Linked DNA regions of Homo sapiens: region 1 is linked to region 2. Evidence: fine-mapped expression QTL. Tissue or cell type: caudate. Region 2 holds a variant in brackets; the other region holds the start of a gene. All regions are shown on one strand. Distances are from middle to middle.

Region 1 (8,106 bases), 400 kb after region 2:
GGTCTTGCCCCCAACCCATATCCATCTCGGAACAAGGGGAAACAGAAGAGTGAACATTAGCTAACCGGAGAGTGGCTGTCAACTCGGAAAGCCTGGCGCTGAGACATTGGTATTCCTCGGTGAAGTTGGAATAGAAAGTATCCAGTGGGAGAGAAGAGAAAGAGGCATAAGGGACACTGGGGAGAGAAGGGCTTCGAGGAGGAGAGGGCAGGGCTGGGGGTACAAAGAGAAAAGAGGGCCGGGCAGCAACTTCCCTGGAGGGTGAGGGGCCTGCCTGAGATACTGGCAGAAAAGGAGTGACAGCTGGAGAGAGAGGAAAGGGAACGGGGTGAGTGGGGGAAGAGGAAAGAGTCGGGGTGAAGCAGGAATGGGAACAGTGATGCGGAGCTGGGGTTGGGGTGTGAAGCGGAGTCTCAGCCTAAAGGGGCCAGGGAAAGGATCTGAAGGCACCAGCTTGTCAGCGAAGCCGGCAGGGAGCATCAGCAGCTCTGGCGTCAGAGGAGGGACTGCGGCGCCCCCTAGTGGGCCTTTGGTCCTCCACCCGCAGTTTCCTCATCCTCATCTATCCTCTAGATCTCAAGTCCTAAGTGACCTCCTTTGCGACTCCTGTAACACTGGTCTTTTTTCACCTGCTCCCAAAGCCTTCACTGTGTAGGTCTGGGTTGGACTTATTGACATCACAGATGAGTTGCCAGTTCCTTTTGGAAAAGAGCTAGAAAAGGTAACATCATCTATATCCCTTGTCAGTGGAAATGGATGAATTGGGAAACCGAGGTACAAGTGAGACTAGGTATTAAACTCCCCTCAAGATCCGGCCTAGAAATAACTCAGGCAATGGAAAACCTTCACCGTCAAATTCCAGGGGCCTGAACCTGACTGCAGTGAGAAAACCCCTGAACCTAACCCCTCCTTCCAACTCGGGACCACTAAACATTGAAGCCACATTGCCTGTGTCCAATCCAGGCATGGCCACTTATTGGCTTAGGAAAGTGGACAACTTCCTTAATTTCTCATTGGAGCAATCTCATCTCTAAAAAGTGAGCACAATAACAAGAAGTTACCTTCAGAGGGTTCTTGTTAGGATTAAATCGACTCAGAGGTAGAAAGTGCTTTGGAACTGCGCATGACACAGGGTGAATACTGGGCGAGCACTAGCTATTATTACTGTCCCTATTCCAAGTGACACATTCCTCTGGGCCCAGGGCCCCACGCCAGTGCCATTTCGGAGAATTCCTCCAAGCTTTCTCTTGGCCTTCTGCGGCGTTGCTCGGTTCCACTCCCGCCTCCGACCCCTGTCTCACCTCACTGTCTCATCCTCCACCAGCCCCTCCATCCATCCTCCCCAGCTCCCCTGGCCCCTAGTCTCGCCCCTGCCTTCCTCGGTCCCGCCCACCCTCTGCCAACCCCGCTCCCCTCCCCAGGCCTGCTCGCACCCGTGGCTTCCACCATGCCCTCGAGGATAACGACGATCTCGAAGTCGTCCCTCTCGAGGGCACGGCGCGACGCCTCCCAGAAGGGGCTGGCGGCGTCGATCTCGTGGCTGATAACCAGCGGCGAGACGAGGAAGAGGCGGTCGTCTCCCGTGTCGAAGCCCACGCTGAGGTCGGTCTGGTGCAGCGGGATGAACTCGCCCTCCAGCGTCTGGCGCGAGCGGATGAGCTTGGCGCGGATGGAGGCCTCCACTATGTGTGAGGAGCGCAAGTCGCCCACGCGGAACATGAGGCAGAGGCGCCCGTCGCGCAGCGACACCACGGCGTGCGAGGAGAAGACGAGCGTGGCTGCGCGCTTGTTGGGCTGCGAGATCTTGACGAACATGCAGCCCACCATGAAGGCGTTCACCATGGAGCCCAGGATGGCCTGCAGCAGCAGCAGCACGATGCCCTCGGGGCACTGGTCGGTGATGACGCGGTGCCCGTAGCCGATGGTGGTCTCGGTCTCGATGGAGAAGAGGAAGGCGGCCACGAAGCCGTTGAGGTTGTTGACGCACGGCGTCCACGCGGTGTCCTCCAGGTGCTCCAGGTCGCCGCGGCCGTAGGCGATCAGCCACCAGATGGCGCCGAAGAAGAGCCAGGTGAGCGCGTAGGCCAGGACGAAGAACAACAGGCTGAGGCGCCACTGCAGGTCCACCAGCGTGGTGAACAGGTCCGTCAGGTAGCGGTATGTCTCGCGCACGTTGCCCTGCTGCACGTTGCACCGGCCATCCTTCTCCACGTAGCGCTGGCGGCCGCGGCGCCGCGGCGGCTCCTCCTGCCCGGGCGAGAAGGCCGCGTTCTCCTGCGCCATGGCGGCCGCGTCAGGGCGAGCGCTGCGGGCGCCTGGAGTGCGGCGGGGGCCCGAGCTGCTGCCACCTGCCGCGCGTCGCTGGGCGCCTAGGCGGCGTCGGGGGTCCTGGAGGGGCTTAATAAAGGTTTGCCGAATGAGTGGCCCCTCGGGAGATGGGGAGGCACGGGGCATCAGGGCCAGCACCGAGCCCTGGGGGGCCCTGGGCGAGTCCCTTCGTGTTGCCTGGCCTCTATTTCTGGGAATAACACATTCAGCCCTAACTGCCCCCCAGGCTCAGAAAGTTGTGAGGGTCAAATGGAATGATGTACCTGAACTGGATAGAACTGTGCAAGTTCCACGATGATTTTCAGGGGAAGGAGGTACCAGATATTTTGGTGCCATCACCTCCAGCTGGGGTGTGCAGCACCTCAGGGGCAGCCCCGGGGCCAAAGACCCAGGCCCAGATCCCCCTAGTGATTTCCTGAAATCAATAGACTGGGGGCTTTTTGGGGAGGGGGGCAGGCGGGTAATGGAGCCCTCCCTGCCCTAAGGACTTCCACCATCCCTTCCCCAGCTGTAGCCAGTGCAGCCACCAATGGCTCTCCTCGCAGGCTGTTTTGAAGTTCACCCCAAGACTGATACACAGTCTTTCTCATTCTTCCCTCCTTGGACCTCACTCACTCCGCTCCATTCCCTCCCCTCAACATGCTTACAAACGAGAAAGAAATGAAAGCTGTGGAAAGTCAGTGGAAACCCTCCAGTGCACAAGGGTGGAACATTAGGAAATTCCCACTAGAAATCCTCCCTGAGACCTACCCACGATCACTGCTGCTCTTGGGCCAGCCTCATTTCCCTTGGGTTTTTTCTCCTAGTGGAGACAGCCTGCAAATGGGGAGGGGAACTGGAAGATCCCAACACAGAAGCCTGGGAAAGGAAGCCCAGAGTTATAAAGAGTTAGGCTCGTATCCCTCTGGGATCCTATTCTTCATGAGAGACATGGAATCAGATCAGGTGAAGCACTAAGCACCCACATTTATTTCCCCACTCCCTCTAGTTATATTTTCCCCCAGCCTCTTACTTCCCATGGACTATCCTAACACCAGCCCCGCCCCCACCTGCCATATGCCCCAAAGCCCACATTCCAAGCGAAGCCCACCTGATTTTTCTTCACATGCTTGCCTCTGAGGAGCTCTCTGAGCTGCAATCTGCTCTGAGAGAGGTCCAGAGCCCTTCCCCAAAGCACCCAGGGTCCTCTAGGAGATATGGACCATACAGGGAAAGGTTTAGAATAGGATTTGGGACTCTTCCACCTTCCCTTCTCTTTCCTGGGAATGATCCTCTCCTCCCACTCCACGGAAACGTGGGCTGGCTAGTGGGTGGGGGATGGAGGAGTGTGCCATAGGAACCACAGATGGCCTGGATGGTTGACCAGGTCCTGGGGAGAAACTGCCTGGGTATGTGACTCTAAACCTAGCACTCCAGCATCTTATGTTCTGGGGTGAGGTCCTCTGCAGTCAGCACTCTGGAGAGGGTGTGTGTGTGTGTGTTTGTGTGTCTTGGGGTAGAGAAGGTAGGAAGAGAAATCAAAATGAAATGGCTTTGAGCTTAGGGGCACCCCCTGCATTTATTGTCCATGGAGTCAGGGGACACAGGGTCCAAGAGCCCCATGGCAATGGAAGATTAGGGTTTCCCCTGCCCCCAACAATGGGCTTCCTTTTCCTTCCCTGAAGCTCAGATGTCCTCAGGAAGAGTAAGCATTGACTGGCTCAGAGACCCCAGGTCATGCAGAAAACGACCCTGCTCCCATTATCCTAGCTTTAGTCCCAGGTGGGCTTCCAGATGTTCTCTCAGGGTCTTAGGTAATCTGACCCCCAGTCGGCTTGCCTAGACAGATCTCTCTGCCCAGGGATGGGGAAGGAACCCCGATGTCGGATCACCCCCAGAACTCTCTCACTCTCCATTGCCCCAGGGATCTAGGTAAACCTTATTTTGAATGTGTCCCACATCCTGTCTTCCTGAGTGGGGGACTGCACTTTTCTCAGGGGAAGGAAAAGTGTGAAATTGTTACCTCTATCTCAAGATCAAGGACTTGATTTCTCCATCTTCCCTCCAAGAATTTCAGTTCCTCCAACCTACTCCTCATTTCTTGTGCATGCTATGACCCCTTTGCAGAAGATTGCAATACCACTTTTCCTGGGCCCCTCTTCCTCCCTCTAGAGAGCTGGGGAGTAAGGGGGCTCATTTTTTGGAAGGAGAGACCTGGTGAAAACTCCCCCAAGAACCAGCTCCTCCCAAACCCCCACTTGCCTTGGAAATAGGGGCCCAAACCCCAAGTCCCCCGCAACTCAACTCACAGCACGTGGAGAGGAGAGTAGCCGGCAGCAGAGACCCCTGGGGGGTGGCGTCCATGCCCCTGACACCGCCCCCCCCACGGGCCCCCCGAAGGGTGGGAGCCGCAGACACCGCTGTTTCTCCTAAATGTAGCGGCAGCTCTGACTAGGACTTGCTATCTGTGTCATCCCTACTTCCCAGGCTCCCCTGCTCCTCTCTTGTTTCCACGGCAACCAGTCTGGCGACAGCTCCAGAGCATCCCCCTCCCCTCCCCAGTCCTGGGTACCACTAGGGGTTGATCCAAACCACACGCCATAGCTATTTTTAGCCAAAGTCCCTCCTCCTGGACAACTCAGAGCTTGGCTCCTCACCCCCTCATAGGAAAAAAAAAAAAAGAAGAAGAAAGAAAAACAAAGCTGGCACGCTGGCTCTTTCCTAAGAAGCTCCTTCCTGGGGGAAAATACAAGCCCTCATGTATTTGAGAATAAGGTGCTAGGTTCCCTGGGGTTTCAGAGGGCCATCTGGTAGCTGGCAGCTCACCACCTTCAACATGGGTCTCTGCGTGCAGGTGCTGCTCTCAGGTCAGGCTGACCATCATGGTCTAGTTTTGGAGAGGCCATGGATCCAGAAGGCGGTAGCTAGAAGGAAAATAGATCTACTAAAGGAAGGGAGGCAGGGTCAGGGGTTCTAATTATTGCCACTGATTTGCACTGTGTCCCATAGGAGTCACTTCACTTCCCTGAGCCACAGTTATTCCATCTGTACCAGGGTGTGGACAAGAGCAAATATCCCCTTTCTGCCTGCTTCACAGAGTCAGCAGATCAAACGAAGAAAAAACAAACAAACAAAAACCAAAAAAACCACAAAGGGCTTTGAAATGTGTTTTATTCATAGCAAAAACCCTAGAAACAACCCAAATGTCCACCAGAGAGAAAAGCCTAGGTTAGGGCTTACTAAGTATTCACTCGGCAAACTTCTGCGGAGCCCAAGTGCCAGGCAGTGTGTTAGATGGGGTGGTTACAGAATGGGTGAGTCCCTGCCCACAAGGAGCTCATTAACCCAGGAGGGATAAAGACACACAAACACACAGTGGCTGCTGCTACTAATTCACTGAGCATGGGATATGAACGAGACACATGCCTCATGTCATCCCCATGGCAACTCTATAAGACAGGTGTTATTTTTCCCAGTTATAGATGAGGAAACTGAAACAGAGACATGTTAAGTAATTTATCGAATGTCACAGAGTTGGGCAGAGACAGGAGCCAAACTCCCACATCTGTATCACCTCATGCTTTGTAAATTGTTTTAAAAGAAGACTTCTTAAAGGGTAGTTTTAGATTCAGAGCAAAACTGAGAGGAAAGTTATAGAGATTTTCCGTATGCCCCCTGTCCCCACACATCCACCAGAATGGCACATTTGTTACAAGTGATGAAGCTACATTGACATCATAATCGCCCAAAGTCCATAGCTGACATTAGGGTTCACTTTTGGTGTTGTACACTCTGTGGGTTTGGACAAATATATAATGATGTGTATCCACCATTATAGTCTCATTGCTGTAAAAGTCCTCTATGCTCTGCCTAGTCAATCCCCCTTCCCTAACCCCTGGCAACAACTGCTCTTTTTCCTGTTTCCATAATTTTCCTTTTCCAGAATGTCATGTCGTTGGAATTGTACAATATGTAGCCATTTCAAATTGGCTTCTTTCACTTAGTAATGTAAATTTAAGGTTCCTCCATGTCTTTTCATGGCTTTGTAGTTCATTTCTTTTTGGCACTGAATAATATTCCATTTCAGGATGGCCATGGTTTATTTATCTATTTACCTACTGAAGGACATCTCGGTTGCTTTCAAGATTTGGCCATGATGAATACAGCTGCTATAAACATCCATCGGCAGATTTTCATGTGGACGTAAGTTTTCATCTCCTTTGGGTAGATACCAAGGAGCATGATTCCTGGATCGTATGGTAAGAGTATGTTTAGTTTTTTAGGAAACTGCCACACTTTCTTCCAAAGTAGCTGTACCATTTTGCATTCCCATCAGCCACGAATTCCTGTTCCTGTTGCTCCACATTCCTGCCAGCATTTGGTGTTGTCAGCCTTAGCCTAGTGTGCCTCAGTAATGTAATATCTGTGGAATATTAATATCATGGGTTACTGTAAAGCCATAATAATTGCTGTGTTTAAATATGTGAATGTGTATATAACACACTGTTACATAAAAAAGCAGAACCTAAAAATATTCTTAGAAATTGATCATGACTATATTGAAATAGCTTCAGGAACACTGATAAAAATCAGAACAAAATTTGGAGAAACAGAAATATCTTATTGTTTATTTTTCCCCAGGGAAATAATGAAGAGAAGAAAGTGGTTTACAAACGCAAAGTGTTGTTGCTGTTGTTATCAGTATTATTATATCCCAGATATGGATCTATTCTTATCCAGATCCTTTAAATTTGGATCAAGAAAATATGAGCTAGAGGAGCAGGAAGACATAGAGATGGACACGGAGGGCTAGAAGCTCCTGGAATGACCTGGCAAGGTGGGAAATTCGGTACTGGATAATATAAGCTCAGGAGGCAATGACTTGGGTTCAAATCCCACCTCTGTCCACTACTAGCTGGGTGAACCTGAGCAATTATTTAACCCGTTAAACCTCAGATTCTTCATCTAAAAAAAAGAAAACCATATTATTCATCTCTTAGAGGGTTGTCATGAAGACTACATAAGGCAATGCCTGACACATTGTTAGTACTCAGTAAATGCTAGCTACTGTCTTCCTCTTCCTCCTCCTCATTGTCTTCTTCATGGTCATCATCATTGTCACTGTCATCACCATCATCTCAGGGATGTCCTGAAAGCCCCACCCTGCCTGTGCCACCTTCCTCTGTTCTGGCACCACCCTGTGAGGCCTGCAGGGGGCGCCCCCGGTATACTGCCCTCTCCTCAGCTCTCTTGCTGGTGATTCTTGTTGTTCCAAGTGGAAATATCGAGTTTTCAGCCCGAGATTGGCATCAAGAGTGCTGTTAAAGCCCCAGTCAACATCCCCGTCTCCTGGGCCTGGTCCTGTCACCCGAGCTTTGGGACTGCTAGCCTGCCCTTCTCTGTCCTGCCAAGCAGCTGCTCACATTGGTTCCACTGTGCCAGGAGCTCAGAGAGAAGAAACCAAACTCCTGGGCAAGAACACATTTGCATAGAGCTGGCCCTATTTGCTGGAGGGGGCATCACTGGCAGGGCCCTCCACAAGGCAATTTCAGCCAGCCCCTCGCCTCAGTCCAGGTGCCCCTGAACCTAGCCTGGCTGACAAGGAAGAAGACTACCACTCCCTCACCTGATTCACTCATCCTGCAGGTCCTAGACTTTACCTGTTATCTAACCTCAGTTCCTTATTTATCACTGAGCTGAACTGAGGCAGGAGAAAAAAAGTTTTCCCAGGCACCAGGACACAAAAGCATAGACAAGATTCTAGCTTTTGGCTTGGCACGGTGGCTCGAACCTATAATC
Region 2 (8,106 bases):
CCTATCTTTGTCTACTCAGCGAACACAGGGCCCCGGTGAGCATTCAGACTCTTAACTCTCCATCATAAAGCAGATGGGAAGAGCCAAATGGAAGAGAGAGGGGGATGGCAGAGGGCTGGATAATGACAGAGGAAGGAGTCAGAATGTCATTACTCAGACCACATGCTGTGAGGGGAGATGATCTGTAATCATGGGTCCTACATGGTTCACAGGCATAGGCATGTGAACCAGTCACTCACACAGTTTCTCTTGGTGATATCAGGTTCATTCACCACCCTGCTGATGGAGAAACTAAGTCCCAGTGAAAGGGATCATCCCTTGTCACCCAGCAAGTCCAGGGCACAGGCAGGATTAGAGCATCCAAGGCACAAAACCAAACTGTCTGACTGCATCATTACTGTTCAGCCAGGGTCTGGGCAATGGATAGACACAGTGGAAAGAGAAAACATGATATAGAAACACAAACACAGGCTCTGGACTCAGATTGGCTTTGGGTCTCATTTCATGCATGAGTGATGCATGACATCACTTGCAGAGGAAAAGGCATAAGGTTTGAAGTCAGAAGACGTGCATTTGAGTTGCTGTTTCATCACTGTCTGTATGGCTTTGCACAAGTCAGTTAAGTTTTCTGAGCCTCCAGTTCCTCATCTCCAAAATAATCAAATCCGCTGTAGAGACCTCTGAAAAGCTTAATAATATCCCAAATGTGAAATAACTGGCTCCATTATGTTTGCCAATGAGGTGTCTTTAGCCCTTCCATAGGCAGGGCTATTTGGTCCCAGGAGCTTCCTGACCCACATGTGAAGCCTGAGGGAGACTCTGAAGCTTTAGGGGACCTCAACACCACCTTCTACCCCAAGAGATGTGGTCAGAAATAGACCACATGACTGAGAAGGTTCACCCAGAGCTCCAAAGACTGTCAAGAACGAATGATCCCTCAGGAAAGGAGATGCTTCAAACACCTGCCTATCTGGGGACACAGTGTGCTCTGGGGAGGGAGAAGTCCTGGGAGAGAAGTCCCAGAGTCCTTGTGCCATTGACTGTGCCTTCCTATGTTAACAGCAGAGTCCGCAAGGAACCTAGAGTATGTTTCAGTGTCTCCAACGAACAACACTGTGTATGCTTCAGTCACTCATTCAAACAGGGTGAGTCTTTTCAGCTTTATATGCCATTGTTGTCAGTTTTACAGCCATTGTTCACAAACTTGTCACCATAACCATCTGACTGAACAAATGACCACTGAGGGGAGGAGAAGACAGCCACAGCGACAGGGGCTGCAAAGTTATGCGCTAGACCACTCTGGTGTCTGCCTTTCTCACCCTTAAGGGAATGTTTATTCATACCCTGCCTTACACAGTTCTCCAACCGCTTGATGCATCAGTAAGTCTTGTCCCTTCAGCTTAATTACAAGCTGACTGAAAGTACAAATTATGTCTTCCTCTCTCTTGCCCTATATCCTAGCATAATGATCAGTAAATACTTGCTGAATGGGTCAGAGTTCCACTAAGTTTGAAAGTTTCCTATGGACGTAGTTCCATAGCAGGTGGCTGACTTCTCACTCTGCATGTAGGGGTCTTAGGGGAGTTCAGAAGTAGTCTCTCAAGAGGGGAAGGGGGCACAGTAGAGGCCACTAAACCATGAGCAATGGTTCACCCCTCCCCTCTCATCTAGCAGCATAACAGGATGGCTGGTCAAGCATCAGCAACTCATCTGTCATGTATCAGCAACTCCCCACCACCCCTAAATAAAGGACCTGCAGGTGGCACATCTCTAAATAATACCATACATTTTGAGAGGCCAGTTTTCTGAAAAATAAGCCAGGAAAGCTTAGCATTTTCAAAATGATGTAAGCAATGATCTAGCTAGAAATCTTGGATTCCCTTCACCTATATTTGCAAAGTATGATCCTTGATGACAGGAAGCAAGAAGGGGTACTCTCACTTGCTCAGACATTTCTTTTGCCTTTGCAAATTCCTCCTGAAAACAAGTCAACTCACACTCTGACAAATCAAAAAACTAATTTCCCACAAATTGGTTAGCTTTCTCTTTAGCAAAAAGAAAAAAAAAATGTGCTTTGGAGAGTTTGAGGTTTTTTTGTTTTTTGTTGGTTTGTTTTTTGTTTTTTGGTTTTTTTTTTTTTTTGAGACAGAGTGTCACTCTGTCACCAAGGGCTGAGTGCAGTAGCACAATCACAGCTCACTGCAGCCTCAACCTCCTCATGCTCAGGTGATCCTTTTACCTTGGCCTCCCAAGTAGCTGCGACTACAGGCGAGCACCATCACATCAGGATAATTTTTCTACTTTTTGTAGAGACGGGGTTTCACCATGTTGCCCAGGCTGGTCTCAAACTTCTGCGCTCAAGTGATCCGCCTGCCTCGTCCTCCCAAAGTGTTGGGTTTACAGGCATGAGCCACTGTGCCCAGTAGAGATCTTGATAATTCTCTAAATACTTCTTCATTAATTTAAAGTGTCAAAATCTTTGAGTAGGTTCTTTGAGGGCCGTAGGGACTTCTGCTATTATTTCTGTAATGTGCATTCCAGGCAGAGCCATTCTTAAGGCCAAGTGTTCCTATTCTACCAATTCCCCATGCTTGAGAAGACCCCAATGACATGATGACAAGGCAGTTAGAATTATAGCAAAAGATGGAGCAGGCAAAATGGGTAGTTTCAGTCATAGCTAGTAAAAATTTGAGACAAAACATATAATAAACTATCTGGTATATAAGTTTTTTCTTAAAAATGGAGGAAGGAAAGTAGAGCTGGACAAAGGACAAGAATACTTCCTTCCCTTCATACAGCAAGGCTGCCTTTCTCTGGCTCTTGAGCCCATTGGTTTGCTGCAGTGTTGCTGTTCTGTTTGGGGCTCAGGAAATGCCACTAAATCCTCACAAGTTTGATAGCTAGTCGTGCTTGGTCTTCCACTGAACATTCCCCAGCCTTCCTCTGGAAGAACTTTGACATATTCTCTTTTTTGTCACACAGTCTTTCCTAAGAATATATCTATGCATTAATCTCTTTGTCTCTGTGTAAGCCAAATTGGTATGATTCTTTTTACAGGAAACAGAAATCTGGACACCTAGAGAAAATGATACTATCACAATTTACTCCACAATTAATCATTCCAAAGAGGTAAGCCCACGATTGCTCCATGTTTTTATATTCTTACCTCTCTCCACAGACCTATGATTTTTCAAATAAAGTAAAAATAAAAGGGTCATTTTACAGATGCACAAACAGCAGCAGCATGCGGAAAGTCTCAGGACATCACCAAAACATAATCAAGAAGTTATTTTGTATTAGGATCACCATGCATAACTGAGTTTTCAATTACATGTTTTTAAATTTAATCCTGCCCTATGCTATCAATATCTCTATTATCTGCCTCTCTGTAGTCTCCAGTCCTCTCTCTGTAGTTATGAGGGGTGGGCTGAGGTTCCAGTTCCAATTAACCTACCTCATCTTCCTCTTTTTCCCACAGAGTAAACCCACTTTTTCCAGGGCAACTGCCCTTGACAATGTCGTGTAAGTTGCTGAAAGGCCTCAGAGGAATTCGGGAATGACACGTCTTCTGATCCCATGAGACAGAACAAAGAACAGGAAGCTTGGTTCCTGTTGTTCCTGGCAACAGAATTTGAATATCTAGGATAGGATGATCACCTCCAGTCCTTCGGACTTAAACCTGCCTACCTGAGTCAAACACCTAAGGATAACATCATTTCCAGCATGTGGTTCAAATAATATTTTCCAATCCACTTCAGGCCAAAACATGCTAAAGATAACACACCAGCACATTGACTCTCTCTTTGATAACTAAGCAAATGGAATTATGGTTGACAGAGAGTTTATGATCCAGAAGACAACCACTTCTCTCCTTTTAGAAAGCAGCAGGATTGACTTATTGAGAAATAATGCAGTGTGTTGGTTACATGTGTAGTCTCTGGAGTTGGATGGGCCCATCCTGATACAAGTTGAGCATCCCTTGTCTGAAATGCTTGGGATTAGAAATGTTTCAGATTTCAATTTTTTTTCAGATTTTGGAATATTTGCATTATATTTAGCGGTTGAGTATCCAAATCCAAAAATCCAAAATTCAAAATGCTCCAATAAGCATTTCCCTTGAGTTTCATTGATGTCGATGCAGTGCTCAAAATCTCAGATTTTGGAGCATTTTGGATATTGGATTTTTGGATTTGGGATGCTCAACTTGTACAATGTTTATTAGACACATCTCCTGGGACATACTGCCTAACCTTTTGGAGCCTTAGTCTCCCAGACTGAAAAAGGAAGAGGATGGTATTACATCAGCTCCATTGTTTGAGCCAAGAATCTAAGTCATCCCTGACTCCAGTGTCTTTGTCACCAGGCCCTTTGGACTCTACCTCAGAAATATTTCTTGGACCTTCCACTTCTCCTCCAACTCCTTGACCACCATCCTGTATCCAACCATCACCACCTCTAACCTGAATCCTACCTTAAGATCAGAACAGTTGTCCTCACTTTTGTTCTTGTCCCTCTCCAACCCACTCTCCACAAGATGGCCAGAGTAATGTTTTTAATATAAATTGGATCCTTCAGTTTCCTGCTTAAAACCCTGCAGGTTTCCCAATGCACTCAGAAAGAAATCCAGTTTCCATGGCCCTGGATGGTCTGGCCCACCTCCAGCCTCAGCTAGCATTACCCTTCTGACACTCTCTATGTAGCCTCCCTGATCTTCTTTCAGCTCCTCTATTAAAGGAAAAGTTCTTTATGTTAATTATTTACATCTTCCTGCAGGCCCTTCCTCTGCCTGCTGGGGTCCTCCTATTCTTTAGGTTTAATTTTAAATATGTCACCTCCTAAGAGAAACCTTCCCAGACCACTCTTTCTAAAATGAATCTTCTAGGCTGGGCATGGTGGCTCACACCTGTAATCCCTGTACTTTGGGAGG[C/T]CAAGGGGGGAGATCACTTGAGGTCAGGAGTTCAAGACCAGCCTGGCCAACTTGGTGAAACCCCGTCTTTACTAAAAATACAAAAAAATTAGCCAGGCGTGGTGGTGCACCCCTAAAATCCCAGCTACTTGAGAGACTGAGGCAGGAGAATCGCTTGAACCCAGGAGGTGGAGGTTCCAGTGAGCCAAAATCATGCCAATGTATTCCAGTCTGGGTGACAGAGTGAGACTCTGTCTCAAAAAATAAATAAATAAAATAAAATGAAATAGATCTTATTATTCTGTTACACCTTCTATGTCATTTATCATATCATTAAATATTTATTTTTACTTTTTTAACATCTATTTCTCCCACTATACCCTAAGCTCTTCAGAAACAGAGACAATAACTGTTTTGTTTATCACCGTAACCCTAGCACCTAACACAGTATCTAGCATATAGCAAGTGTTCAAAAAAATTTTTTAATAAATAAATGAATATGTAATGGGGTTTTGTGAAAATGAAATAAGACAATACACCTGGAGTCCTTAGCATAGCTCTCAGCCACATAAAGGAGCTCAATAAATGTCAGTCAGCATTGTTGGTATAATTACTGATACAATTAGTATAAATTAATAATAGTAAAAATTAATTATTACTGAATTACACAGAATCATCTCACAAACCTTCAGCACAACAAGACGTGACAGAGATCAGCTCTCAAGACCACAGGATTCAAAGGGAAGGGGTTGGAGAGTTGGAATGGGGAAAAACTGAAATAATGGCTGAAAAGAATAGAAAAAAACAAAGCTCATCAAAGTTAATTAATCTCAAATACCAGCCATCAATTACAGTATTAGTCAGTGGAGTAGGACAAGATAGGGAAGCTTAATCAAGAAGAAGGAAGAGTTTCCAAGGAATAGGTTCTGGGTTCATGGAGACTTCAAAGAAAAGAGTAAAAAGAGGGTTACTGCCATGTTCGTGCAACATGACCTGAAGCTCAGGAAATCTCACTGGGCAGGTAAGAGAGTGCTTTCCTTTCAAGGGGACCCAAAAAAAAAAAAAAAAAAAAAAAAAAAAAAATATATATATATATATATATATATATATATATAAAGCTTTTTTTGTGTGTGTGGAAACTTTGAAGAATTCCAAGGTTCTTCAGAGAGGGAAAAGGAATAATCTGTAAAGTCAGTGCAGATAGAAAAATATTTGCAACATCTAGGGTGCCCAAAACCAGCAAGAAAATTAGGGGATATGTCATGGAAGGCACAACTAATCCATCTAGTCAGAAATCTACCAGAATCTACCCTGAATCTGGACTGCACTGGGGAGGATCACAAACAAAACAAAAACTAAGGGCGTATCTATAGACATCTAAGAGGTGAGTAAGAAAAGAACTCATAAGAAAGCTAAGCTCACTTGTCTTTATAGACCAGCTACTAAAACATAGAATTCCTGATGTTATATTTCTTTCAATCTCTTCAACCTTCTCCCTTTTTATCATAAATACCACACTCTCTTCTCTTGGCTTCTGTGACACTACATTCCCCGAGTTTTACTCCTTCCTTCCTAGCTGCTTCTCAGGCTCTTTGCAGATCCACTGCCTCCTCCACAGGACCAGTAAAGACTGAAGCTAAGGCTCACATGTGGGTCCCATTCACTTCTCCATCTAAGTACTCTTCTTATCTGATGTCAGCCATTCCTATTGCCTTAATAGCCTTTATAAGCTAATGGTTCCCAAACACATCTTTAGTCCTGACCTCCTGGCTTACCTCATTAACTGCCTACTTGGCATCACCATTTGCATATCTGGTAGATATATCAAAGTTTTTTAAAAAATAAAAACTCTTGGGCAGATGTGGTGGCTCATGCCTGTAATCCCAGCACTTTGGGAGGCCGAGGCAGGTGGCTCACTTGAAGTCAGGAGTTCGAGACCAGTCTGGCCAACATGGTGAAACCCGGTCTCTACTAAAAATACAAAAATTAGCCGGGTGTGATGTTGGGTGCCTGTAATCCCAGGTACTCAGGAGGCTGAGGCAGGAGAATCACTTGAAACCAGGAGGCGGAGGTTGCAGTGAGCCAAGATCATGCCACTGCACTCCAGCCTGGGCAACAGAGTGAGACTCTGTCAAAAAAAAAAAATCAAACCTCTTGATTTCTCTTATCAAGCCTTTTCTTCTACTATGCTTTTTCATATCAGTAAATGGTATCATTGTTATGGGACACTCTTGAACAGATCTCCTTTACAAAACTGAAAACTACCCAGTACTCACCATATAACTAATCATTTTTGTTTTCTTGTGGGAAACAAATGGATTTAATCAACAAAAACCTAATCTATTGTTCTAAAGTTAAATACATTAAGACCCAGATGCCCCATTCCTAAAAGATGAATCATGCATTTTGCAAGCAGGGAAGAAAACATGCAATGCTTATAAAATTCCTACCAAAAAACAAACTTTCTTTGCCCAGGAGGTAAGCTTGTTCTTTAATATTTTTATTGTAGAATTAAGGAAATGGTAGCCCCATTAAACTACTTTGAATAAGGTAAGATGGCTGTGATTGGCTATCCTGGAAAGGTAATAAAAGGGAATAGAAATACTCTTCCCACTCTGCCAGCCCCCAGTCATTCCCACTAGGAGGTCACAAAGTGTTGACAAGGCCTACAAGACCCCTACTCACATCTCTACTCCTTCTTTCACAGCATTCCAGCCACACTGTTCTTTATTCAGCTCCTAGAATAATCTAGACTCTCCTTCCTACTTCTGTGCCTTATGGATACTGGGACCACATCCCTATGAGGCAACAATTAGCTGGTGCTGAGTAGCCTCTGTTCTATTCTAAATGGGGCTTGCACTTCACATTTCACTCCTGGCCTGCCCTGCCTGCTTCACTCACTTAAGATACCTACCTAGTACTGAAAATAGTTAAGTTTCCAACCTCTTACCTACACCATGAAGCTTTGCCCCACATCATGTTGGTCAAAAGAGCACATTAACTAGTCCCAAAATAACAATGTCTGATCTCACTTGTCCACACCCCATCCCACCCTCAAGCCAACACCTGAACCCCGTGTAGCTTTAGGACACTTACTTGAAGCTTTCATCATTTAGCCTCCCTCAGGGTTCAGTGTATACTTTGATATGAGGAAGCAGGGCCACAGCTAGATGCAGAACAGAGAGAAGGCTACCCTGTCC

The links. PIP is the estimated chance that this variant, and not a neighbour inherited with it, causes the effect.
Region 1: it holds the start of KCNJ9, and the variant in region 2 is fine-mapped to the expression of KCNJ9 in caudate (GTEx, PIP 0.93).

What each region holds. Positions count from the first base shown.
Region 1 is chr1:160,078,208-160,086,313 of GRCh38, reverse strand. KCNJ9 (potassium inwardly rectifying channel subfamily J member 9) reads right to left here and starts at 4,776. Exons shown (of 3, transcript NM_004983.3): 1 at 4,617-4,776; 2 at 1,434-2,397. The coding sequence starts at 2,283. RefSeq lists an enhancer at 1,186-1,716.
Region 2 is chr1:160,482,127-160,490,232 of GRCh38, reverse strand. SLAMF6 (SLAM family member 6) reads left to right here. Exons shown (of 8, transcript NM_001184714.2): 5 at 1-35; 6 at 1,063-1,145; 7 at 3,058-3,129; 8 at 3,479-5,197. The coding sequence ends at 3,526. Among named protein-coding and RNA genes, the nearest start is that of SLAMF6, 37 kb to the left of the region's middle. RefSeq lists enhancers at 594-653, 764-893. The variant C/T (reference allele first, on the strand shown) is at 4,928.